Linked DNA regions of Homo sapiens. The protein of the gene in region 1 purifies or fractionates together with the protein of each later gene. This does not show direct contact. Each region holds a gene or a part of one and is shown in the gene's direction. Other genes may lie near its edges.

What was found.
Region 2: the proteins of CCNF (region 1) and ZNHIT6 purify together in Homo sapiens (affinity purification with mass spectrometry, with the first as the bait; 2 studies listed by BioGRID). This does not show direct contact.
Region 3: the proteins of CCNF (region 1) and DNAJA1 purify together in Homo sapiens (affinity purification with mass spectrometry, with the first as the bait; 2 studies listed by BioGRID). This does not show direct contact.
Region 4: the proteins of CCNF (region 1) and AGK purify together in Homo sapiens (affinity purification with mass spectrometry, with the first as the bait; 2 studies listed by BioGRID). This does not show direct contact.
Region 5: the proteins of CCNF (region 1) and ARCN1 purify together in Homo sapiens (affinity purification with mass spectrometry, with the first as the bait; 2 studies listed by BioGRID). This does not show direct contact.
Region 6: the proteins of CCNF (region 1) and NAP1L4 purify together in Homo sapiens (affinity purification with mass spectrometry, with the first as the bait; 2 studies listed by BioGRID). This does not show direct contact.
Region 7: the proteins of CCNF (region 1) and EIF2S1 purify together in Homo sapiens (affinity purification with mass spectrometry, with the first as the bait; 2 studies listed by BioGRID). This does not show direct contact.

The regions. Positions count from the first base shown.
Region 1 is NC_000016.10:2,453,447-2,456,400, forward strand, and holds part of CCNF (cyclin-F), read left to right. Parts: coding exon 1-91; intron 92-1,948; coding exon 1,949-2,118; intron 2,119-2,619; exon of another isoform or gene 2,620-2,954. UniProt on the Homo sapiens protein: Substrate recognition component of a SCF (SKP1-CUL1-F-box protein) E3 ubiquitin-protein ligase complex which mediates the ubiquitination and subsequent proteasomal degradation of target proteins.
Region 2 is NC_000001.11:85,698,434-85,701,933, reverse strand, and holds part of ZNHIT6 (box C/D snoRNA protein 1), read left to right. Parts: intron 1-3,500. UniProt on the Homo sapiens protein: Required for box C/D snoRNAs accumulation involved in snoRNA processing, snoRNA transport to the nucleolus and ribosome biogenesis.
Region 3 is NC_000009.12:33,031,773-33,035,272, forward strand, and holds part of DNAJA1 (dnaJ homolog subfamily A member 1), read left to right. Parts: intron 1-2,443; coding exon 2,444-2,558; intron 2,559-3,500.
Region 4 is NC_000007.14:141,641,910-141,645,409, forward strand, and holds part of AGK (acylglycerol kinase, mitochondrial isoform 1 precursor), read left to right. Parts: intron 1-3,500. UniProt on the Homo sapiens protein: Lipid kinase that can phosphorylate both monoacylglycerol and diacylglycerol to form lysophosphatidic acid (LPA) and phosphatidic acid (PA), respectively. Does not phosphorylate sphingosine. Phosphorylates ceramide.
Region 5 is NC_000011.10:118,592,909-118,596,408, forward strand, and holds part of ARCN1 (coatomer subunit delta), read left to right. Parts: intron 1-681; coding exon 682-790; intron 791-1,095; coding exon of another isoform or gene 1,096-1,158; intron 1,159-3,500. UniProt on the Homo sapiens protein: Component of the coatomer, a cytosolic protein complex that binds to dilysine motifs and reversibly associates with Golgi non-clathrin-coated vesicles, which further mediate biosynthetic protein transport from the ER, via the Golgi up to the trans Golgi network.
Region 6 is NC_000011.10:2,985,830-2,989,329, reverse strand, and holds part of NAP1L4 (nucleosome assembly protein 1-like 4), read left to right. Parts: intron 1-58; exon of another isoform or gene 59-201; intron 202-1,203; exon of another isoform or gene 1,204-1,253; intron 1,254-3,500. UniProt on the Homo sapiens protein: Acts as a histone chaperone in nucleosome assembly.
Region 7 is NC_000014.9:67,366,828-67,370,327, forward strand, and holds part of EIF2S1 (eukaryotic translation initiation factor 2 subunit 1), read left to right. Parts: intron 1-3,500. UniProt on the Homo sapiens protein: Member of the eIF2 complex that functions in the early steps of protein synthesis by forming a ternary complex with GTP and initiator tRNA. This complex binds to a 40S ribosomal subunit, followed by mRNA binding to form a 43S pre-initiation complex (43S PIC).

The DNA.
Region 1 (2,954 bases):
TGACACAAGACAGCCCCGACCCCCCGACTTTCCTCAGCACAGGGGAGATCCACGCCTTCCTCAGCTCTCCCTCGGGGCGGAGAACCAAACGGTTAGTTACCCTGCGTTCTGGCTGCGCCATACAATGCTGGCATCCTCGTGCCGGCCCAGTTCCCTCAGCGCTTCCTCACACAGAGAGGCCCCCAAGGCTTGTCAGGGGAGCAGCAGATCCCAGGACAGTGACCCTGGGACGGAGCCCTGCAGTCATGCCTCGGGCCCCTGCGTAACCTCCACTGTCTCCAGCCCAGGTCTCCTTCCTCAGAGGCTATTGCCTCTCGCTCTGACTGGGCTCCCTGTGGAGGAAGATGGTTTCGAGCACGCGGGAGCCTAGCCTGGCTCTAGCCCTGCCCGTGCCTGTCATGCGCGTCCTGGACTTCTCTGCTCCATGATGCTGCTGTCACTCCCGGCACTCGAGCTGTGACCTGAGTCACATCCCCAGCACTTCCCTCGCCACCCGTGTGGACCTGTTTACCCGCCTCTCCTATCTCAGCACCTTGGCTGTTCCTCCTGGAGTTAACTTCCTCTTTCTACCTCACCCGCCTGGAGAACTCCTACTGATTCCACAAGGCCCCGATGAACAGGGCCCTCCCTGTGCTGCTGGCCCTGCGCCGTGACCCCTCAGCACCATGTGCACCAGTAACCTTCCCAAGGGCAGGCACTGGGTGGCTGGGTCTTTCCTGTCAATATAGGACCAGGCAGGGCTGCCTCCAGAAGCGTTGTGTCGGGAGTGGGCTCCTGGCAGGAGACCTCAACTCCTGGGGAGCCCTGGGGAAGCAGCCAAAGCCCCTGCTGCTGCTTCCTCCCCAAGAAGCGTGACAGCACTTTCCATTGTGTGGAAGGCAGGAGACCTGACCCTCCTGTGTCACTCCACACACGCACCGACTCCCTGGGGCCAGGGTCATCACGAGGAAAGTCCATGCAGATACGCACGGCTACTCCAGGAGGGGGCCTGGCCCTGGCCCTGTGCTCAGCCTCGCTGTGTTAAACCCGCTTCTCAGAGGCCCCCCACAGCCCCATCAGTCTTCTGAGACAGACCCCCACGGGTGACACTGGGATAGCTCTCTCCACCCCCCGCCCTCCACCAGGCCCTGGGGTCAGGAAGTGGAAAGGCTCAGCTGGTGTGGCGGCTTTTCCCAGGCTCACGCCCACACACTGGCCTCTAGCCCCATCCTGAGCAAGACTTGACCCCAGTTGGGTGTGGGTGTCAGCACCGCCCAAGGCCAGGCCATTCCATGCAATCTGCCTGGCGCCGGGCTAAGCACTGCCTGCACCTTATTAATCAACACCAGAGGGGCCGGGTGCGGTTGCTCATGCCTGTAATCCCAGCACTTTGGGAGGCCGAGGTGGGCGGATCACCTGAAGTTAGGAGTTCGAGACCAACCTGCCCATCATGGTGAAACCCCGTTTCTACTAAAAATATAAAAATTAGCTGGGTGTGATGGCGGGCACCTGTAGTCCCAGCTACTCAGGAGCCTGAGGCAGGAGACTCACTTGAACCCGGGAGGTGGAGGTTGCAGTGAGCCAAGATCACACCACTGCACTCTAGCCTGGGCGACAGAGCAAGAACACCTCAAAAAAAAAAAAAAAAAAAAAAAAACACTGGAAGGTGGCATCATCCTAGAGGTTTCCAGGGGACCAGATGGTTGGCCCACGCCCCACAGCTGAGCCGGGTGGGCTGGGCTTCACACCCAGACCTGGGGCCTGAGTTTGCCTGAGCTGTCCTCCAGGTTGGCCCTGCCTGAAGGGCTTATACCTGTTCTAGCTTCACCGGCATCTTCTTCGTAGCAGAACCTTTGGGAGCACGTGGTGACAGGCTGGGGCACGCGGGTGTTAGAGGCAGGTGTGGAGGGCCTGGCCTCCCAGCGCCGCCGTCCATGACTGGGTCTCCTGGGCTCTCTCCACCTTGCAGGAAGCGGGAGAACAGCCTCCAGGAAGACAGAGGCAGCTTCGTTACCACCCCCACTGCGGAGCTGTCCAGCCAGGAGGAGACGCTGCTGGGCAGCTTCCTCGACTGGAGCCTGGACTGCTGCTCTGGCTATGAAGGCGACCAGGAGAGTGAGGGCGAGAAGGAGGGCGACGGTGAGTGTGGGGCCAGGGTGCACCAGAAGGGACATCACACAGAGGGTGGCTCTCACCGAGGGCCTCTGGGCACCCGGCCCTGTGCGAGCGCTGTGGGAGGAAGATGTGCACAGAGTGCGGGGTGGGGCCAGCTCCTGCCCCGCCGGGGAGTGTGTCCAGACATGGGGAGAGAGGAGGGGAGAGCCCCCAAAAGACCACAGCTGCTCCCACCACACAGGGATGAGAGGACTTAGGCCACACCTATCCGGCTCCTGCTCATTCCGTGTTGGGAGGACCTCACTAGGATGAGGGAGGCAGAGACCCTGTCTGGAGTTCATGGAGATCCTTCTAGGCCTGTAGTCTCATGCCTGTAATCCCAGCAATTTGAGAGGCTGAGGCAGGAGGATCACTTCAGGCTAGAAGTTCAAGACCAGCCTGGGTGACACAGCAAGACAAAAAATTTAAAAATTAGCTGGGCATCGTGGCGTGCGCCTGTGGTCCCAGCTACTCAGGAGGCTGAGGTGGGAGGATCTCTTGAGCACAGGAGGTGGGAGCTGCAGTGAGCCGTGATCATGCCACTGCACTGTAGCCTGGGCGTTCTTTCTAGAATGTTGTTTGAGGTGTGCCCACGTGGTATACGTGACACTCCTCACTGCCCTGCTGGGATCACTGCCCTGTGCAAACCCCAGGCAGACTGCGGGGTCCTTGCCAGAAGCCCAGTTAGTGTGAGTCCTGTCAGTTTCCCGGTTGCTTGCTTCTGCGTCCACTTGGCTTGAGCTAGATGGCCAACTTGTCATCTCCACATTTGTTGGAGTCATGGCGGGCAGCTGTCCAACTTGGAAGAGGCATGTCACCCA
Region 2 (3,500 bases), on another chromosome or scaffold:
CATTTGAGAAGCTTCTCAAACATTAATGTGCATACCAGTCACCTAGGCATCTTGTTAAGTATGCTTGTTGTGATTTTTCAGTAGGCCTGGGTTGGAGTTTGATATTGGGCATTTCTAACAAGCTCCTCAATGATGCTCATTGTTTGAGAAACATATTTTGAGTAGCAGCGCCCTGGAACACTCTCATACATTAGAAATAAACTGTTTCTTTGAGAACTAAGATACCAAGAAAGTATTTCAGGGGCTTCCAGGACAAAACGAGTAAAAACAGGACGCCTGTACTGTTTTAATCAAGGCAGCTCTGCTTTTATTTTCTTTCTCCACTGGGTTTCCAAATAAGATTTCAATTAAAAGCTGTCAATGTAGAAGAAGGGGACTTTGAACTCTTGAGTACAGATAATATAACAGAGATTAGTTTGCTGCTGTCTGAAAATGTTGGGTTGAAAAGGCCCCAAGAGTACAGAAGAGAACAGGATCCCAAAGTTCTTTAAGTAGCCAACTAAATTATCAGATAATACCTTTCAGAAGTCAAGATTTTGGATTTAGAATTTTTAAAAACTTGAGGGAGTCCCTCCCTTTTCAGCCTCTTAGTAACTGTGGGGCCTTGAACAAATCAACTTCCTTTCTCTGGGCCCCAGTTGTATGATGTGGGGAGTTGACCCGGGTAAACTACGGAGCCTTTCCAGTTGTACTCTTCCAAAAATTGAAAAGACAAAGCCATCAGAATTATCATTATTCTAGTGAAGCTTCTATCTTTTCAAAGCTGTTATCATAATTAGAAGATGACGTTTTCCATTTATTTTATATAAGACATAAACATTTGTAAAAATGGTTTTTCGTTTTTCCTGGTTGTCTTCGAAAAGTAAAGTAATGCTGAAGCAGGTGGATCCCTTGAGGCCAGGAGTTTGAGACCAGCCTGGGCAACATGGTGAAACCTCGTCTCTACTAAAAATACAAAAATTAGCCAGGTGCAGTGGCACCCACCTGTGATCCCAGCTACTCAGGAGGCTGAAGTGGGAGCATCCCTTGAGCACAGGAGGCGGAGGTTGCAGTGAGCCAAGATTGCACCACTGCACTCCAGTCTGGGTGACAGAATGAGACCCTGTCTCAAAAAAAAAGTAAAGTAATGTCTTGCATTTATCAAATGTGAGATGATTCTTTTGTGCGTTTTGAAACTGGCATATTTAGAAATTGACATAATTTGAAGTTTATGGTAACTGGTTAGAAGTTTATGGTAACTGGTTAGTGCTTTCTCAAATACAAAATGTGTTCCTGTTTTATGAAAGAAACTATTCAGAATGATTGTAATCAGAGATTAGTTCTCAGTAATGAAAAGCAGATGGCCTCAAGTATAACATTTTTGTGTCTGTAGGTACATGAATGTATGCGGGAAGTTTTTACCGAGAATATTACACTCAGTATATTTTCCAGGTTTAATATATTTTTGGTTGTTTTGAAACTCCCCGGGTCTCTGAAATGGCAAATCAGATTCTTCTTGCATAAGTCTTTTGCTCATAAATTTATAGAGATTTGTGATCAGTTTTCTTACATTTTTAGTGTTTCCCAGGAGGAGATTAGCAACATAGTATGTACTAATAGGCTTTAGAATCCATTTCTTAGTCTTTTACCGTCTGCAAAATGGAGCTCATGATAGCTACCTTGTAGAGTTGTGGCCTTTTAGTGTATTAATTCACATAGGCAGTAACTGGCATGTGGGAAGGAATCAGTTTATAGTAGCTATTGTAAAAATAATACATCTGTATCATTAAAAAGTTTAAAGGAAAAATATCACCTATAATTCCACTATCTAGAGTTGACCACTAATAAAATTTCGTAACATTTCCTTCTAATCATGTTTTCTCCTTTTTTCATCTAATAAAGTAAAACATAATATAAAATACTTAAAACTATATAAAGTGACATGACTCTGCTCAAGTTAAACATTAATTTTTTATGAATAAATGCACCTCCTTTTTTCCTGCAGCTAGATTTTCCATTTAGCAATACATTGTGAACCTCTTTTCTTGTTAATGCAAATCTGCCTCATTCTTTTTAAATAGGGTATTCCACCTTTGACTATATCTCATTTCATTTAATTATTCCGATATTCATGAACATTTATTTTATGTCTTGTTTTTAATTATTATACATAACACGGTATTAAACAGCCTTGAACAAATTGTTTTGTGTGCTTACCTGACTTTTTTTTGTAGGATCAATTCCTAGAAAGCGGAATTACTGGATTAGAGAGTACAATGTATTTAAACTTTTGAGAAAAACTCTACATTGTCTCCATAAAACATTACCACTTTGTACTTTCATCAAGAAAGTATGAGTGCCTATTTTAGTTATACCTTAACTTTTGTTGAATATTACCAAATTTTTTTGTGGGCAGCTTTATTAGAGAGGTTGAGCTCTTGGATTTTTAATTTCTTGTTAAGACATTGCCAGATGTCCACTGCAGGAGGCAGAATCACCCCCATTTGAAAAGCACTGATTTACATAAATACAGAAGATGTACTTATTGAATGTATAGTTCTAATCTTTTCTTGGTCCAGATAATTAACATAATGTAGACAGAATCAGGATTCTGGTGTTTTATACTTCACCTTTAAGAGGAAAAAATAGACATTTAAGAGTTACTTTGTTTGAGATATTTGTGTCTTATCAGCTGTTCATATGAAAATGAGCAAGGTTTTAGATGATTGCAATGGTATTTGCTGGAAAGAGGGAAGAAGGGGAAATGAAATTTTTTCAAAGAATTCTGTTCAGCTCCCATGCCCCCAGTATTCTAAGAGACTAGTTTTCAATACTTTTTTCTATTAACTTTTCAAAAGTTGGTTATAGCTTTGACTCTGATAAATGTAAATTTTCATGTTGTCTCTACTATTTGATTATACATTAGGTGACCTTGGGCAAAATCTGACTTACCAGGTTATTGAGAGGATTAAATGAAATTTTAATACCAACTAAAGTAGTACCTGGCACATACTAAATAATATACAGTGACAATGAAAATTTACATTCCCTTCACTGAAATCCTTAGGAATATGCCACATTTACTGTATATTCCATTCACCCCTCATAGGTCTGGGATAGCACTGTGTAATCAAACAGTACTATTTGTGCAGTGAAACCTATAAATGTTTACCTTATAATGGGTAAATAATGACTATAGATTTATTCAGTTAGGTTTTGCTGCTGAAGGAGTTAAAAATCTTTCAGTTTTGGAGATTTTGGAATTGTTGATATGAGAAGTTGGTCTTGTCCTAAGATTATTAATACTCCCTAGGTATTAAATTGATTGCTTGTTTAAGCAACTTGAGTTGCAATATAGTCAAAATCTCAAGTTGATGTCGCTTAAAATTTACATGTTTTCACTTTTGAGGAATCTGAATGAAGAATCTTTTGTACTGTTTTTGTAACTTTTCTATAAAGTCTACATTTATTTTTTTTAAAAAAAGTTTTAAATGTAAAAGCCCGTATATGAAGTGTGATGA
Region 3 (3,500 bases), on another chromosome or scaffold:
ACTTGCCCATCTATTATATTTAAATGCTCCGTTAATTGATTTGATAGACTACCTTTCATTTTTTTAGACTTGACACTTCCCTAACCCATTGGGCTCCAGATTTAGAAATAACTATATAACCTTTTTTTTGTATTCTCGGGATTTGATTGATTTGTCAATTTTTAAATTTTACTCTTGTCAACTTGCAAAAACATTTTAAAATGTATTACAGCAATACACTGCAGAAATTTTAAGAAATGTATATAACCCCAGAAGGAAACTTAAGTCAACATTATGGTAATCTCTTTTCAGATTTTGCTGTTTATAAATGGGTCTACTATTATACTGTACTGTGGTATGATACCAATCTGGAACTGTTAATATTTGAACATATTTCCATATTAATATACAAATCTACATTAACATAAGTGGCTGCAATAGGATTCTATCATGTGACTCATGATACTGGCCTCTCTGACCCCCAGGGTTCCACCCAAGAATGTAGTACATTGAAAGGTAAAAATAAGTTTCCTTGGCCAGTTGTTGAACTTAATAAATCTGTGTTTACCCCTTAGTGGGCCCATGCCTAAGGTTTATACTTTGAGGTGTTCTTGATACCAATAGCATACAGAGTAAGTCTTAACGTTGTTGATAGGTTCTTGGAAACTGGGACTTCTAGCAGAATGACCTCAAATAATGTCATGCAGGTCCTCAAATAATGTCATGTCACTGTAACACAGCTGAGGGGAAAAAAATTGGTCTTGTTATGTGTCATTTCATTTAAAGCAATTTCCAAGAACCTATCAACAATGGACTGTAAGTGAGAACTTGAAATTAATGCCCTAACTATATAGCAAGTGAAGGCATTTGTGCTGTGCCTACTCTTACTCTGTATTCAGGAAAACCTAGCTGAGTTTAATTGCTTCCCTAGCATAACAAGTTATTTTGCCTCAATACACGATTAAAGACAGATTGTTTAATTTTGTCAGTGTATGATACTGATAGCGCTTTAAGTCCTTATTTAAGAGGTACGTACTGAAGTATTTGTGGGTTAATGGATATAGTTGGAGTTTGCTTGAAAGTATATGTGGGGGGCATGCGTAGGGGTGTAATACATGAAATATTAGTCATGAGTTAGTAACTGCTGAAGCCAAATTGGATGGATATGTAGGAATTCATTGTACTGTTGGCTCTGTTTATACAGGATTAATATTTTCCATACGTAAAGGTGAAACATGATTGCTCTGTTAGGTAACCAGAGTGATCTTGGGAAATAATCAGGAGATAACTGCTTTGGTGTAATACTCTACAAACACAGGTTTTCTTACATGAGTTATGTTCTAAGAGACGTTGCCCAAACCCTTACTGAACTAAAATATGTGGGTCAGAGGTGAGGGGCACGAAGTCTCAGTTTAAAAAAAAAAAAAAAGGCGTGTTTTTTTGCCCTGTTAGAAAATACTCCTCCCCTTGTATTTTACGGACCACATGGGCTAAGGGAGTGTCTAGCACTGATTGTTTTGTTTGCTTGTTTAATTTAAATGAGACAAGGTCTGGAACTCCTGTGCTCCAGGGTGCTATCCTCAGGGTATCCTCCTGACTCGGCCTCTCAAAGTATAATTACCCTTTTTTTAAGGGGACTATACTGAATAGTTCTTTAAAATACGGATTTTCAGGCACAGGGGCTCAGGTCTGTAATCCGAACACTATAGGATGCCGAGGCAGGATCCCTTGAGCCCAGTAGTTCAAGACCAGCCTGAGCGACATGAGAACCCCCATCTCTATTAAAAAAAAAAAAATTCAAAAATTAGCTGGTCTGTGGTCCTGGCTACTCGGGAGGCTGAGGTGGGAGGATCACTTGAGCCCAGGAGATGGAGGCTGCAGTGAGCCATGTTTGTGCCACTGCACTCCAGCCTAGGCAACAGAGCAAGATCCTATCTCAAGAGAAGATTATAGATTTAAAATTTTTTTAGTTTTATATATAAATACTACAATAGAAGGGTCTTGATTTACATTGCTGTTAGACTTTTAATAGAAGTAATTTGATGTGTTATAAGTAATGAAACTGAAATACTTAATTAACATTTTTTGGTTATAACCAGTGTTAGCCAGTCATGGTTTAGTACCAGCATATACCTGTTGAGTTAATACTCTAAATATTGCTAATGAGGTGTAGGTGTCTGTGGGAAAGTTGAAACTTGGAAAGGATATGCAGCTTACTTCCCCAGGGTAATCCAGCCAGTGAATAGCAGCTCTGAGATTTGAAGGCTAGTCTCTTTGCCTCTGGAGTTTGTGTTCTCCACTATGATACCTTTCTTCAGGAGCAAATTGGACTGAACTACTTAAGTGGGCTTTCTTAGTCATTTCTGTGATTTTTATGCATAAACAAACATCTATGTATAGATTTTATGATTCTGACCTTAGTTGGATATTTAATAAAAGTACAAAATTAATGTTTTGTTTTTAGGCATGAAAGATGGCCAGAAGATAACATTCCATGGTGAAGGAGACCAAGAACCAGGACTGGAGCCAGGCGATATTATCATTGTGTTAGATCAGAAGGACCATGCTGTTTTTACTCGGTAAAGACTTTTATCAACCACTCAAATTGATATCACATATTTGGGTTGTTGGTTTTGTTTTTTGTTTTTTTGTTTTTTTTAAAGTGTTTTCCATTACTCTTAGAACCTATTTCTCAGGAAGATTGTTAACCATTGTTCAGATCATAAGAGGTTGAATACATAGGATCAGATTTTTAGCTTTTTGTCTCTAAGTATGGAACGTTGAAAATGTGTTTCAATTAGATGTTTTGTGTGAACCTAAGCAGCAGATGGGTGGGGAAAACATCCCTGGACAAAAATTTGCCCTCAATCTTTGTAAAGCAATTTAAGTGCCTTAAAGCTCTCACCAGTTTTCAATCTCATTTATGATAAATTGAATTGCTTTTAATTATAAATATCCAAAAGCATCTCTGTAGGAAACTTAAATTGTAACTCAATACTAAGTATAAATTCAGGTCTACCATTTTGAGCTAAATAATGAGTATGATGAACACTGAAGCACAAGAAAGATGGATGATTAACAGCAAATGTTTGTGATCCATGGCTAACATAACACCCTCTGTGCATGCTATATTCCCAGCAACTTGGGAGGCTGAGGTGGGAGGATCACTTGAGGCCAGGAGTCCTAGCTACTGGGGAGGCTGAGGCAGAAGAGTGGCTTGAACTCAGGAGTTCAAGGTTATGATCATGCCACTGCATTCTAGCCTGGGTGACAGTAAGAACCCACCTTTTTTTTTTTTTTTTTTTAATGGAGTGGAGGTGAAATTGGGAACATCTTAAACTAGTTTAGGATTAATTAATATTTCAGCTTGGTTTGGTGGCTTACGCCTGTAATCCCAACACTTTAGGAGGCCGAGGTGGATGGTCAGGAGTTCAAGACCAGCCTAGCCAACATGGTGAAATGCCATCTCTGTTAAAAATTAAAAAATTAGCCAGGCATGGTGGCAGGCCCTGAGGCAGGAG
Region 4 (3,500 bases), on another chromosome or scaffold:
TAAGTGTGCTTTTTTATTAGAAAAGCATTTGGTACCTAAGAAAAGTGACAATAGCTATAGTCCTCTCCCACTAATTCAGTTATTTTTATTTTTACCCTGTGGAGATAGAGAGGGCAGTGTCAGGAGAAAGAGGATGTGGTGTGCCTTTAAGGAATAACAGCAATGAGGAGAAGCTGCCACCTGCAGGAGTGGCATAAATGCTTCTGGGGCTCTGATTACATGTTCTGCTCATTGCTTAATTGGCATTCAGAGAACTTAGGGCAAGAGGGCTTTAGAAATGAAAATTAGCTATTCCCATTTGTCACTGGAAAAAAATTGTGGAACTTTTAGTTGAGTAAATATCCACGATTTTTGTGACTGTACTAAATATGTCAAATTAGATCCTCAGGAGAAAAATACCCACACACATACATCTGTATCTATATCTACATATTATTTATTTAGGCCCAATCTATAGGTATGCACTATCCCATACGGTAGCTATTAGCCACATGTGGCTAGTTAAATTTAAATTAATTAGAATTAAATAAAATTCAAAACTTAGTTCCTAAGTCACACTCACCACATTTCAAGTGCTCAACAGCCATATGTAGCTAGTAGCCATCATACTGGAAAGCACAGGTATACAGCCTGTCCGTCAGTGCAGAAGGTTCTGTTGGGTGGTGCTACTATAGACAACACACCCAAAAGTATTGAAATAAAGCAGGCATTGGCAAACTGGTCTGCCACCTGTTTTTATATAGCCCAGAAGCCAAGAATCTTCTAATTTTAAATGATGCAAAGAAAATCAAAAGAATAATTTTTGTGAACAGAAAAATACGTAAAGTTCAAGTTTCAGTATCCATAAATAAAGTTTTATTGGAGCACAGCCATATTCATTCACAAATATATTGTCTGTGGCTGCCTTTGTGCTACAGGGGAGAGCTGAGTAGTTGTGACAGATTGTATGGCCCAAAGCCTAAAATGTTTATTATCTGGTCACTTACAGAAAAAGTTTACTGACCCTAGTATAGAGAAAACCTTGGTAATTTATATCAATGAGAATGCCAATAGGAAAGTAATTGTTAACTGTGGACTAATTACATTCAGCTTGTATGCAAATTAGTCTGTTCACAGTTGTCTAGGCCAGTCTGAAAATTAGCAGATGGAGTTGGAATGTCGTGAAAAGTTTGATTCCAATATTAATAGAGTGATAAGTTTGATTCTAATATTAATGTTCAGAGTATTGAGATGTTTTCTAACTATGAAAATAATACATGTCCATTGCAAAACATTTGGAAAACATAGCTCCCTTCACCCTATAAAAAAAATTCTAGTTTGATTAAAGAACTAAATGTAAAATAATAAAATCATTAAAGTAGTAGGGTAAATGGCACACGTTTATACCTATGTAACAAGGCTGCGCCTCCTGTGTATGTATCCCGGAACTTAAAATAGAAGTTTGAAGTTAAAAAAAAGTATTAGGGTAAAATCTAAGTGATTATCAGTATAAAATTAAGGAGGACAAGGCCTCTCTAAGCATGACATTTAAGGCAAAAATCATATTGATGCATTTGTCTTTTTATTTAAAAAGACATTCTAAACAAACTTTTAAATGACATATTGGGAAAAATATTAGCATGTGATAGACCAGGAATTCACTTTCCTTTTAACAAGCTCTTAGGATAAAGCAATGAGAAATGGGCAAAGGACTAATATAAAAAGTGAGCAAGGGGTAAGAATAGAAAATTCATAAAAGAAATAAGCATATGAAAAAATAGCTTATATTTGCTGATTATTTACTACATGTGAGGCACCTGTCCTAAGAATTTTACATAATATTATGTAATCCTTATAGGTAGATATCTTTATCTGCATTTTGTAGGTAAGGAGACAGAGTGATTTCAGCAAAGAAATGCAAATTAAAATAGTAAGATTGAATTGTCATGACTAAAAAGCATGTTATAGATTAAAAGCTTAGTGGTGGTGTGTGTTTCTGATGGGAATATAGATTGGAACATCCTGTCTCAGCAATTTGGCATAGTATACATAAAGTGTCTAAAATATATGCATACCTTCTGCCCTATTAACTGTATTTCTAGGAATTTATCCTACTGGAATAACCTGATGAATATATAATGTAGGCAGTCCTTTTTTACATAATGGAAATCTGAAAAACACTGGTGAAAGTGGATATGTGAATGCTAAAAAAAAAAAAATAGATTCTGTTCCAGAGGAATTTAAAAGAGAAAGATAAAATGTCTAATTATACATCTCCTTTATACCAAGTCTTTAATAATATGTATTCCGAGTATTTTATTCATGTTCTTTACCATTGTTCTTTTCTCTGATGACTGAGTACCACTGAATGGATTGAGTTCAGTGAGTATGTGAGTGCGCTCAAGATTAGCCACACTCACAATGCCAAGTGCTTTTTATCTTTGTGCCTATTTAAAAGTATACGATACTGTGCCGCTTATCACTAGTAGCAGCAAATTCATTTGTTTCGTTTTTGCACAGTTCTTTATAAAAATAAAAGCAAATGCAATACAATAAAGGCAGTGTAGCTGCCGTGTAATAGCTCAAAATGTTCACTTATTAAAAGCAGCACATTCAGTGTATGAAAGAAGCTGTAGGAGTATAGAATGTGTGAAAATTAGGATCTCTTATACAACTATGCTCACTGTATAATAGTAAAATATTTGCAATGAACTAATCAGACTGAATAAATTTTGGTACATTTATTAAAAGTCATATCTATTTTATATATGTATTATTTTCTATCTATTGACATGGGAAAAATAGGTGAAAAGATTTGCAACATAGTTCCATTTTTCTTTAAAAAGGAAATACCCCCACTTATAAGTGAGTTTTGTGAATGATGGAGGTAAAGCTCCAATTTTATGTTCTTTCCAAATAGAAAGCCAGTTGTCCAAGCGCCATTTATTGAAATCTCCATTTTCCCCCATTGATCTTCAATAAACCTCTGCCATACATCATGTCTATATACATGTAAATGTTTCTAGTCTCTTTCTTCTATTGTTGTTCCATTTTCTCATATTTATACTAATACTCTGCTTCTCTTATTATAGTTTTATAATAAGTTCTATGTTTTTCTCTTTTTACACAGTCTCTTGGCTATTCTTAGCTCATTTGAGTTCTATAAATATTTTAGAATGTTTATTTTATTAAATTCCACATAAAAATGTTATAATATTGATCTCACTGCATTGTACCCATAGATCAATTTGGAGAGAAATGACATTTCTACAATATTGACTCCTCTAGCATATGAACGGGGTATATCTCTTCATTTATTTAGGTCTTCAATGTCTTTCAATGAAGTTTTATAGTTTTCTCTGGAATATCCTGTCTTTTGCTGGATATATTCCCAGTTATCTTAATTTTTATGCTATTCTAAATAATATCTATTAAAATTTCATTTTCTACCTGATTTAGTAGATGGACATATAATTGATTTTTATATCAATGCTGAATCAGCAACCTAATTAAATTATTAT
Region 5 (3,500 bases), on another chromosome or scaffold:
TAGCCCTTGCTGGTACACTTTTATTTTTATTACCATAGCAAAGTTCTTTCTGACAAAATGACTTTCTTTTGAAATGGACCTGGTGCTGCATTTTGTATATTTTTATCATTAGTTTTCATTTTTAATAGCTTTCATTTTGAAACCATTGTAGTTTTGTTGTTGTTATTGTTTTAGAGACAAGGTCTTCTTCTGTTGCCCAGGCTGGAGTGCAGTGGGGCAATCATAGCTCACTGCAGCATCAAACTCCTGGACTCAAGCCATCCTCCTGCCTCAGCCTCTTTAGTAGCTGGGACTAGGACTATAGGCACATGCCACCACATCCAGCTAACTTTTTTTAAAAGACACAAACTCCCTCTGTCACCCAGGCTGGAGTGCAGTGGTGTGATCATGGCTCATTACAACCTTGAACTCCTGGGTTCAGCTGATCTCCCACCTCAGCCTCCTGAGTAGCTAGGAGAACAGGGAAGTGCCACCACGCCTGGCTTTTTTTTTTTTTTTTTTTGGTATAGGTGGAGTCTCACTTTGTTGCCTAGGCTGGTCTTGAACTCATGGCCTCAACCAATCCTCCCACCTCGATCCTACCACCTTGGTCCTCTAAAGCGCTGGGGTTACAGGCATGAGCCACTGCACCCAGCCATCTTTTTCTAATATTCTAGTATGACTGCTTTGCTTTCTCCTCAGTTAATTGCTGGCCCTCGGAGAGTGGAAATGGCTGTGATGTCAACATAGAATATGAGCTACAAGAAGATAATTTAGAACTGAATGATGTGGTTATCACCATCCCACTCCCGTAAGTGCTGTCCCTGTGTCCTCTACGGTGGACTTAGAGAACTGGTCTTTTGGAACTCATTTTGGAGTCAGCACCTACCTGACCTGACTGTCCATTCAAAGATACTTCTTTAAAAAGCTAGTTGTGAAAGAAGCCAGATACAAAAGGCTGCATGTTATGTGATTCCACTTCTTTGTCTTTCTGGAAAAGGTAATACTATTGAATAAAAATGAGGAGGTAGAGAAGAAGGTACTTCACTTCAGAGGGGCACAAGGGAACTTTTGGGAATGATAGGAATGTTCTAGGACTTGTGTTTGCTTTGGCAGCACAGGTACTAAAATTGGAACCATACAGAGAAGATTAGCATGGGCCCTGTGCAAGGCTGACATGTAAGTTATGAAACATTTCATATTTATAAATAAGTAAAGCAAGGAAATTGTTTTTTTGAGACAGAGTCTCACTCTGTCACTGGAGGTCACTGGCACGATCTCAGCTCACTGCACCCTCCACCTCCCAGGCCCAGGCTATCCTCCTGCCTCACCCTCCCGAGTAGCTGGGACTACAGGCGCACACCACCACGCTTGGCTAATTTTTGTATTATTTGTAGGGACGGAGTTTTGCTGTGTTGTGCAGGCTGATCTCAAACTCCTGAGCTCAAGTGATCTGCCCGCCTCGGCCTCCCAAAGTGCTGGGATTATAAGCGTGAGCCACCACACCCAGCCAAGAATTGCTCTGTGACTTGATTGTGGTGGTGCTTACTGCATACACTTGTTGAAATACATTGAGCACTTGGAAGGGATGGATTTTACTGACTTTAAAACCAAATTGAACAAGCCAGTTGTAGATCTGGAGCTGTTTTTATTTATTTATTTATTTTTTATTTTTATTGGAGACTGAGTTTCACTCTTGTTGCCCAGGCTGGAGTGCAATGATGTGATCTCGGCTCACTGCAACCTCCACCACCTAGGTTCAAGTGATTCTCCTGCCTCAGCCTCCCGAGTAACTGGGGTTACAGGCATGTGCCATCATGCCCAGATAATTTTTGTATTATTAGTAGAGACGGGGTTTCACCATGTTGGCCAGGCTGGTCTCAAACTCCTGACCTTAGATGATCTGCCCGCCTTGGCCTCCCAAAGTGCTGGGATTATGGGCGTGAGCCACCGCACCTGGCTATTTTTATTTTTATTTTTTTGAGACAGTCTCACTCTGTCAGCCAGGCTGCAGTGCAGTGGTGCAACCTTGGCTTACTGCAACCTCCACCTCCCAGGTTCAAGCGATTCTCGTGCCTCAGTCTCCCAAGTAGCTGGGATTACAGGCGTGTGCCACCACGCCCAGTTAATTTTTGTATTTTTAATAGAGATGGGGTTTCACTATGTTGGCCAGGCTGGTCTCAAACTCCTGTCCTCAAAATGATCCACCTGCCTTGGCTTCCCAAAGTGCTGGGATTACAGGCGTGAGCCACTGCACCTGGCCTGGAGCTGTTTTTAGATGTTGGTCCTCAGCTTGTTTGTGTAGTAATGAAGATTTCCAGAAGGAGGAGCCATTTGTCAGTCAAACTTTCTGTTTTGCAGGTTTCAAAGAAATTGAGTCTATCGGGCTGAATGTTTCATTTTCACGTGCTAGTCTCTAAACTTTCACTAAAGATGAGAGTGTGTTCAAGGGAACTGTTGATTCTTGTTGAACAAGATGTCTACATTAGTTACAGTAAATTTCCTAACAGCCCTTTTGGAGCATAATTTATATACAATAAACTACACATATTTTAATTGTATAATCTTGACATGTTTACACTTGTGAAACCACCACCATAATCAAGATAACAAAAATGTCATGTCAACCCCAGAAGTTGAGTTCCAATAAGCTTTTGTTGTACACTTAAATGGCCCACTATCTAGGATCAACTGGAAATGGTCTCTACCTTATCTTTTTAGTAACATTTACAGTGAGCATGCAGTTATTACTTCACAGTAAATCCTAGCTCCTTTCACCTACCCATCAGCCCTCATGATTAAGCACAATGTTTAATTATGAGCACCAGTAAGTGTATTCTTAGTGTATCTTTACTGTTATGTCGCTCAGTTATTGCTGCAGAGAAAATGGTACTAATTTGCCAGGCGCAGTGGCTCACGCCTGTAATCCCAGCACTTTGGGAGGCCGAGGCGGGCGGATCACGAGGTCAGGAGATCGAGACCATCTTGGCTAACACAGTGAAACCCCGTCTCTACTAAAAATACAAAAAATTAGCTGGGCCTGGTGGCGGGCGCCTGTAGTTCCAGCTACTCCGGAGGCTGAGGCAGGAGAATGGTGTGAAGCCGGGAGGCGGAGCTTGCAGTGAGCTGAGATCGCGCCACTGCACTCCAGCCTGGGTGACAGAGCGAGATTCCGTCTCAAAAAAAAAAAAAAGTACTAATTTAATTCATAGTTTTCTTCCCTTTTTGATAATTCAAGCCTTTACATTATCAGGTCTGGTTTTAGTCATTCTTGTTTCCAATTTTAAAAATATACTTTATTACCAGTATCCCCTTTAATGGGTAACCATCTTATCCTCTACAGTATGGTTATTGCTTCAGAACAATAGATGGCTGCCTTGAACTGTTGTAGGACTTGGGTGTTGGTGACAGGTAGAGTTTTGTTTGTCAAGATTTAGTTTACTAGACTATTTATAGAATGCTACAATTTTGAGGCCTGTCTACCCTATAATTGTGGTTGTGGTGGTTTCCTGTATTCTAGT
Region 6 (3,500 bases), on another chromosome or scaffold:
TTGTTGGGAGTTTGGCCTGAGATTGCTAGCTAAGGAATGCTTGCTTTTTTGCTTAAAGGGAAAAGTGTTTTAGGCTTCCAGAGTAGAAATCTGATATTACTTCGTTTGATTCTTCGACCACTATGGTGATAGGAAGTAGCTGATCTCTGCAGGAAACTGCTGTTACCTGGCCTCAGCTGAATTTTTGTGGGACCTCCTGAGGTAAGCAAATTTATGCCTCCCGAAACTATAGTTGTAAGGTTTGTCTTTGAGCATATAGTAATGGAAAACCCTTATCAGTAGGTAGATAGTAAATAATTTTGTATTTGGCTGCTAATGAAATTTTTAAGAAATAGTTTGTGGTGATATAAATTAGTTTTCATCTGGCAGTCATTGGTTTTCCACCCTGCCCTCTTAAGAGAGAACAGGGTTGCTTTACTTTGTTTGCCAGAGCTTTACATTTTGCATTTAGTAACAGAGGCATTGTGTTTTTATAGTATGAAAACAACGAAAGATCACTTTGTGATCTTTACTTTTTGATTTTGACCACTTCCTGTGTAACCTTAAGTTTCTTACAAGTATCCCCTGTTAACTGTTAAAAACGAAATGTATGTTCATTTCATGTCCTTGGGACTTTTAAAAATGCGCTGTGCATTATCTGGAAAAGCCTGTTCAAAAACAAGATGAGATAATTTCTGTTTAATTTGTGGTAGAAAGAATGACTGTGCACTTTTATGTGCAAAGGTTTTAAGTATAATAATTAAAATAGTACTTGTTTACTCAGTTACCGAAAAGTAGCTTTCAGTGATTTGCATCTGTTTACTTATTCATGAGCATCTTCTATGTACTGGGCACAGTTCTAGGTACTGGGGCCTCCCGCAGAATAAAACAGAAGTCTTTGTCCTTGTTTCTGCTATGGGAGACAGACGAACAAGTTCAATGGTGGCAGGTGCTTTTGAAAAACAGTGCAGAGGAGTAGGGACTTTGGTGGTTGCAATATGAAATAGGTAGAGAGGGAAGTGCCTTATTGACAAGATGACAAGATCTTTTAATATGTACTGGATTAAGAAGTTAGCCTCATTGAGTCGTATGCTAATGAACTGCCCAGAAAAGAAGGGTGGAGGAGATGGGAGTGCAGCAGTAAAGACTGCTGCGCCCCAAGTAAAATGTAGTGTTTTGGTTAAGGAAAGGAAATCATTTTTTGCTTTCTTCTTGAAACCCCAGGGCTTGGCACCGCAGAAGTCTCTGAAGAGACAGTCTGCTGCTGTTTGGAGGCAGGTATTTCAGTAGATCTTGTAACCAAACATGAATGACTAAGGCAGTGTTTCTCCTCTGTGTCTTCAGAAACTGCTTGAGATGTGTGCATGCAGTCCCGGGCACCATGCGTGCTGGGTACTGGTAACACAGAGACAAGTTGTCATTTGGTAGCAGTGAGTTAAGCAAAGATTTCTTGGCAACCAGTCTCATCCCGAGTCTGTTGCTGGGCCTTGGGACTTCTGTATTGAGCAAGTAGACAGGGTCCCTGCCCTCGTGGAACTTGTTCTTTAGTGGGCAAACATGTATTATTCATTGCTTTTTTTTTTTTTTTTTTTTTGAGGTGGAGTCTCGCTCTGATGCCCAGGCTGGAGTGCAGTGGCGCGATCTCGGCTCACTGCAGCCTCTGCCTCCCAGGTTCAAGCAATTCTCCTGTCTCAGCCTCCCAAGTAGCTGGGATTACAGGTGCTCACCACCACGCCTGGGTAATTTTTGTATCTTTTTAGTAGAGACGGGTTTCACCATATTGGTCAGGCTGGTCTCGAACTCCTGACCTCAGGTGGTCTGCCCACCTGGGCCTCTCAAAGTGCTGGGATTACAGGCGTGAGCCACCGTGCCCAGCCTATTCATTGCTTTTAAACATTATCATGGGCCTGGCATGGTGGCTCACGCCTGTAATCACAGCACTTTGGGGGAAGCTGAGGTGGGCAGATCACCTGAGGGTCAGGAGTTTGAGACCCTCTCCCGCCTTGGGTGACAGAGCGAGACTCCACCTCAAAAAACAACAACAACAACAAAAAACCCAGAACATTATCATGGAAAGTTTAACAACATGATTAACTTCTGATCCTGGAGAGTGGTAATGATAGACTGGATCAGGAGTCTACTGGCCTGGGCAATAGAAATGAAATCTGGACTGTCTCAGGGCTTCGTATAATCACCAGCTTTTGTGGGTGGGGATGTTGGGGTGTCCTACAGGGGTATCTTGATTCCTTCTGAGAACAGATCATTTCTTTGTCCTTTCTGATGTCCTAATCTAAAACATCCAGTACTCCTGGAGGATTTGAACTTGTGCCCAATGGCTGGTCAGACTCTCTTGGATTGAGAATGTTGGATTGCCATTCCTCAGACTGAATGTGGGCCAAGCAATTGTGCTTTAGAAATTTATCTTAGAGTGCGGTGGCTCATACCTGTAATCCCAGCACTTTGGGAGGTTGAGGCAGGTGGATCACCTGAGGTTGGGAGTTCGAGACCAAGTCTGGCCAACATGGTGAAACCCTGTCTCTACTAAAAATACAAAAAAAAAAAAAAATTAGCTGGGCATGGTGGTGGGCACCTGTAACTCCAGCTACTTGGGAGGCTGAGGCAGGAGAAACTGGGAGGTGGAGGTTGCAGTGAGCCGAGATCGCGCCACTGCACGCCAGCCTGGGCAACAAGTGCGAAACTCTATCTCAAAAAAAAAAAAAAAAATTTACTACCATCCCTAATTTTGTAGGATATATAGGATTTGTAAGGAAATTATAAGGAGTCTTGTGAAAACATTAATTACATTTGAATTAATTTTAATCCTTCAGTTATCTCCCATAAAGACATTGAGGACCTTTGAGTTTATTAAGACAGAGTAAATATATAAAAGTTTTGGGGAGTACGACTACACTCTCTAGCTTTGTCTCTCAAACGTGGCCCAATTTTTTTTTCCTTTCTTTTTCTTTTTTTTTTTTTTGAGACAGGGTCTGGCTCTGTCGCCCAGACTGGAGTCTAGTGGGGCAATCTTGGCTCACTACAACCTCCGCCCCCCAGGTTCAAGCAGTTCTCCTGCCTCAGCCTCCTGAGTAGCTGGGACCTCAGGCGTGTGCCACCATGCCCAGCTGATTTTTGTATTTTTAATGGAGATGGAATTTCACCACGTTGGCCAGGCTGACCTCGAACTCCCGACCTCATGTGATCCGCCCGCCTTGGTCTCCCAAAGTGCTGGGATTACAGGCGTGAGCCACCGTGCCTGGCCATGGCCCAATTTTATAGTTACTCTAGCTATGGAGTAGATGTTTTCAGTTCAAAATTAGGAATTTAAGGTTATATTTTGTTACAAAAATCTTTAAAAATTTCATAAGAAAACAGTTGTTTGGGGTACAAAGAAATTAATCCATAAATAGGATTGTTACAGTGACTAATATAAATAAAAGAACATTTGTGTAATCATGGGAATTATTTTATTTTATTTTTCCTCGACCCAATTAACTGGGTGAAAATTTGCTTGCCAGTTCAGA
Region 7 (3,500 bases), on another chromosome or scaffold:
ACTTATAAGAAAGGGTATGTTTTCTGTTTTACACCTTTTTTTTTGACCTAAGTACATGCTGAAGACAGCTTCAAGCCAGGCAGCTAAGGTTCTAGCAGAAAATTTATGGTCTTATTGGCTTTAGAACTGGAGGCGAGAGTTGTAGACAACCATAGTAGATGGAAACTGGTGGTGATAGTGGTGAGGGTTAGAGAAAGGAGGCGGCAGGCACAAAGGGAGATCCCCTAAGTCTATATAAATTCTTCCCAAATCTCTGGTTTGTCCCTGAACTACTGAAACACAGGGTGGACTCCAGGTAGCCTAATAGGGGAAAAATCTGAACAGATTTCAGTTGCTTACCATCTGGGGAGACAGAGCTTATAGTTTTGAGTTCAGATTCTGACTGCCTGCTAAAACAAAAAATCTATATTCTCTTTTTTTGGGGGATGGAGTCTCACTCTGTCGCCAGGCTGGAGTGCAGTGGCACGATCTTGGCTCACTGCAACCTCCGACTCCCTGGTTCAAGCAATTCTCCTGTCTCAGCCTCCAGAGTAGCTGGGATTACAGGCACACACCACCATGCCCAGCTAATTTTTGTATTTTTGGTAGAGACAGGGTTTCACCATGTTGGCCAGAATGGTCTTGATCTCCTGACCTTGTGATCCACCCGCCTTGGCCTCCCAAAGTGCTGGGATTACAGGCGTGAGCCACCACGCCCCACCCCATCCAGGTCACTTTGTGCTAAGTGTTCTACACTTGGTCAGCATTCTCATAAATACGGTGCATGGAATGGAACACGGTGGGCACGTTGCGTGAACTCACAAATTCAAGACCAGCTGGGGCAACATGGCAAAACCTCATCTCTACAAAAAATACAAAAATTAGCTGGGCGTGGTGGTGCACCCTGTAGTCCCAGCTTCTCGGGCGGCTGAGGTAGGGGGATGGTTTGAGCCCAGGAGGCGGAGGCTGCAGTGAGCCAAGATTGCACCGCTGCACTCCAACCTGGGTGATAGAACCAGACCTTGTCTCAAAAAAAAAAAAGAGAGAGGTGAAGGAAGTTCTTTAAGCTGAAGAGATGTGATGACCTGACATGGAAAATATATAGGTAAATGTAAAAGACTATTTTTGCCCTTCTTAGTTTCTTTAAAAATATATTTAACTATTTGTCTCATTTGTGCCTGTGGGATTGTAATCTATAGAGGTGACTGAGTGATGACACAGTCCAATGCCCTTGAAAGAAAACTTTTACTACTTATATTGCCTGAGAGAAGGGGGCTTGATGTGCCATGCAGGGCCACATGGGGAAGCACCAGTTTTAGTCAGGAGTCACAAGGAACTAGGGGAAAAAGTAGGTCAGAGCTTTTGTTGGAGTTTCTGCAGGAAAAGCAAGGCAGAGCAGCGTAAACGGCTTGCAGTTGGCTAGTTTGAATGCTTTTGGCGGGCCTTGGGGCATAAAGACTGCCCTGCTTGTCTAATACCTGGCCCTTGACTTACAGCAGGGAGAATTTTGGCTTGGTGTATGAGTTTATGGGCTCCAGATTGGCTGCTCTGCATAAGAAAGGCATGCTACCAAGCAAGCCCTTTGCTGACTCCTCCCCACCTGACGGAGGGGCAGTCTCTCCACAAATGTCAGAGCCTCAAGAATACAGAAAATAAGAAAATATTTAGTTACTACTAATAATATTAATAATAAAATATATAGTTAATACAGTTGGCTCTGTGATTAATGGATGCCAAGTAGTTAAATATAGAAGCTAAGAAAACAGAATACTGTTTAAAGCAGGCTTAGTACACTTGACAACTTAATCACAAAGGCCAGGAGGTGTGGGGTAAATAGATCTATATGATTCTTAACGATTCTTACATTTTATGTGCAGTAGTAAAATTAAAAGGTTAAGGATGTATATTGTAAATTCTAGAACAACCATTAAATAAGCCAGTTGCAGTGGTCTGTGCTTGTAGTCACAGCTGTTCGGGAGGCTGAGGTGGGAGAGTCACTTGAGGTCAGTAGTTCAAGACCAGCCTGGGCAACATAGTGAAACTATCTCTAGAAATAAGTAAGTAAAATACAAAATACACTATTGTAAAAGCCAAAGATATATTAAAATGGAATTCTAGAAAACATTAACCTAAAAGAAAACTCAAAAGAAAAAAACAAAAACCAGAAAGAACAAATAGAAAACAAATACCTAAAATGTAGGTATTCAATTATTCAGTTATTGATACAACTGAATTCATTTATATCAGTAATTAAATGTAAATCAAGTAAATATTCCAGCTAAAAGGCAGAGATTGTTAGGATGAATTAAAAAGCAAGACTCGACGATAATCCTGTCTACAAGAGATATACTTGGTTGAAAATAAATGGATATAAAAAGATATGCTATGCAGACAATACCTTAAGGAGACAGTGTCTATTAATATTAGATAAAGTAGATTTAAAGACATAGTATTTTCAGATTTAAACAGGGACATTTTGTAATGATAAAGGGTCAATTTGTTAGAAGGAAAACAACAGTCATCACTGTGTATGTGCCTAATAATAGAGTTCAAAATATAAAGCAGAAATTGAATTCAAGAGAGAAATAGACAAATCTATAATCATAGTTGGAAGTTTGAACAAGCTCTGAACAATTGGAGAAACAATTAGATCAATGAAGACCTTGACTTGTTTGATACCTAGAACACTGCACCCAGAAAAGGCAAAATACACATTATTTTCAAGTGTGCATGACATTCACCAAGATAGACAATAAGGTGAGCTATAATATTAATACAACTCTAAATAAATTTCTAAGGGTTGGAATACAAATATGTTCTCTGATCACACTGGAAGTAATTTTGAAATCAGTGTCATATCTTGGGAGGGAAGAGTTTGCAGTATTAAATAAGCCCTTCCAAATAATTCATATATTAAAGCCTTAAGGGAAAATTTATAGCTTTAATTACTTATATTAGAAAAGAATAAAGATCTAAAACAGTTATCTAGGCTTTTGTTTTAGAAGATAAAAGAAAGGAAAGGTAAACTCAAAGTTGCTGAGACCAGCTCTGTTGGGGAGACCCTAACCCAGAGGCGCTAGAGGAATTAAAGACACACACACACAAATATAGGGGTGTGAAGTGGGAAATCAGGGGTCTCACAGCCTTCAGAGCTGAGAGCCCCGAACAGAGATTTACCCACATATTTATTAACAGCAAACCAGTCATTAGCATTGTTTCTATAGATACTAAATTAACTAAAAGTATCCCTTATGGGAAATGAAGGGATGGGCCGAATTAATTGCAGCAGGAACACGTCCTTAAGACACAGATCACTCATGCTTTTGTTTGTGGCTTAAGAATGCCTTTAAGCAGTTTTCTGCCCTGGGCGGGCCAGGTGTTCCTTGCCCTCATTCCTGTAAACCCACAACCTTCCAGCTTGGGCGTTAGGACCATTATGGACATGTCGCAGTGCTGCAGAGATTTTGTTTATGGCCAGTCTTGGGGCCAGTTTATGGCTAGATTTTAGGGGGCTTTCTCCC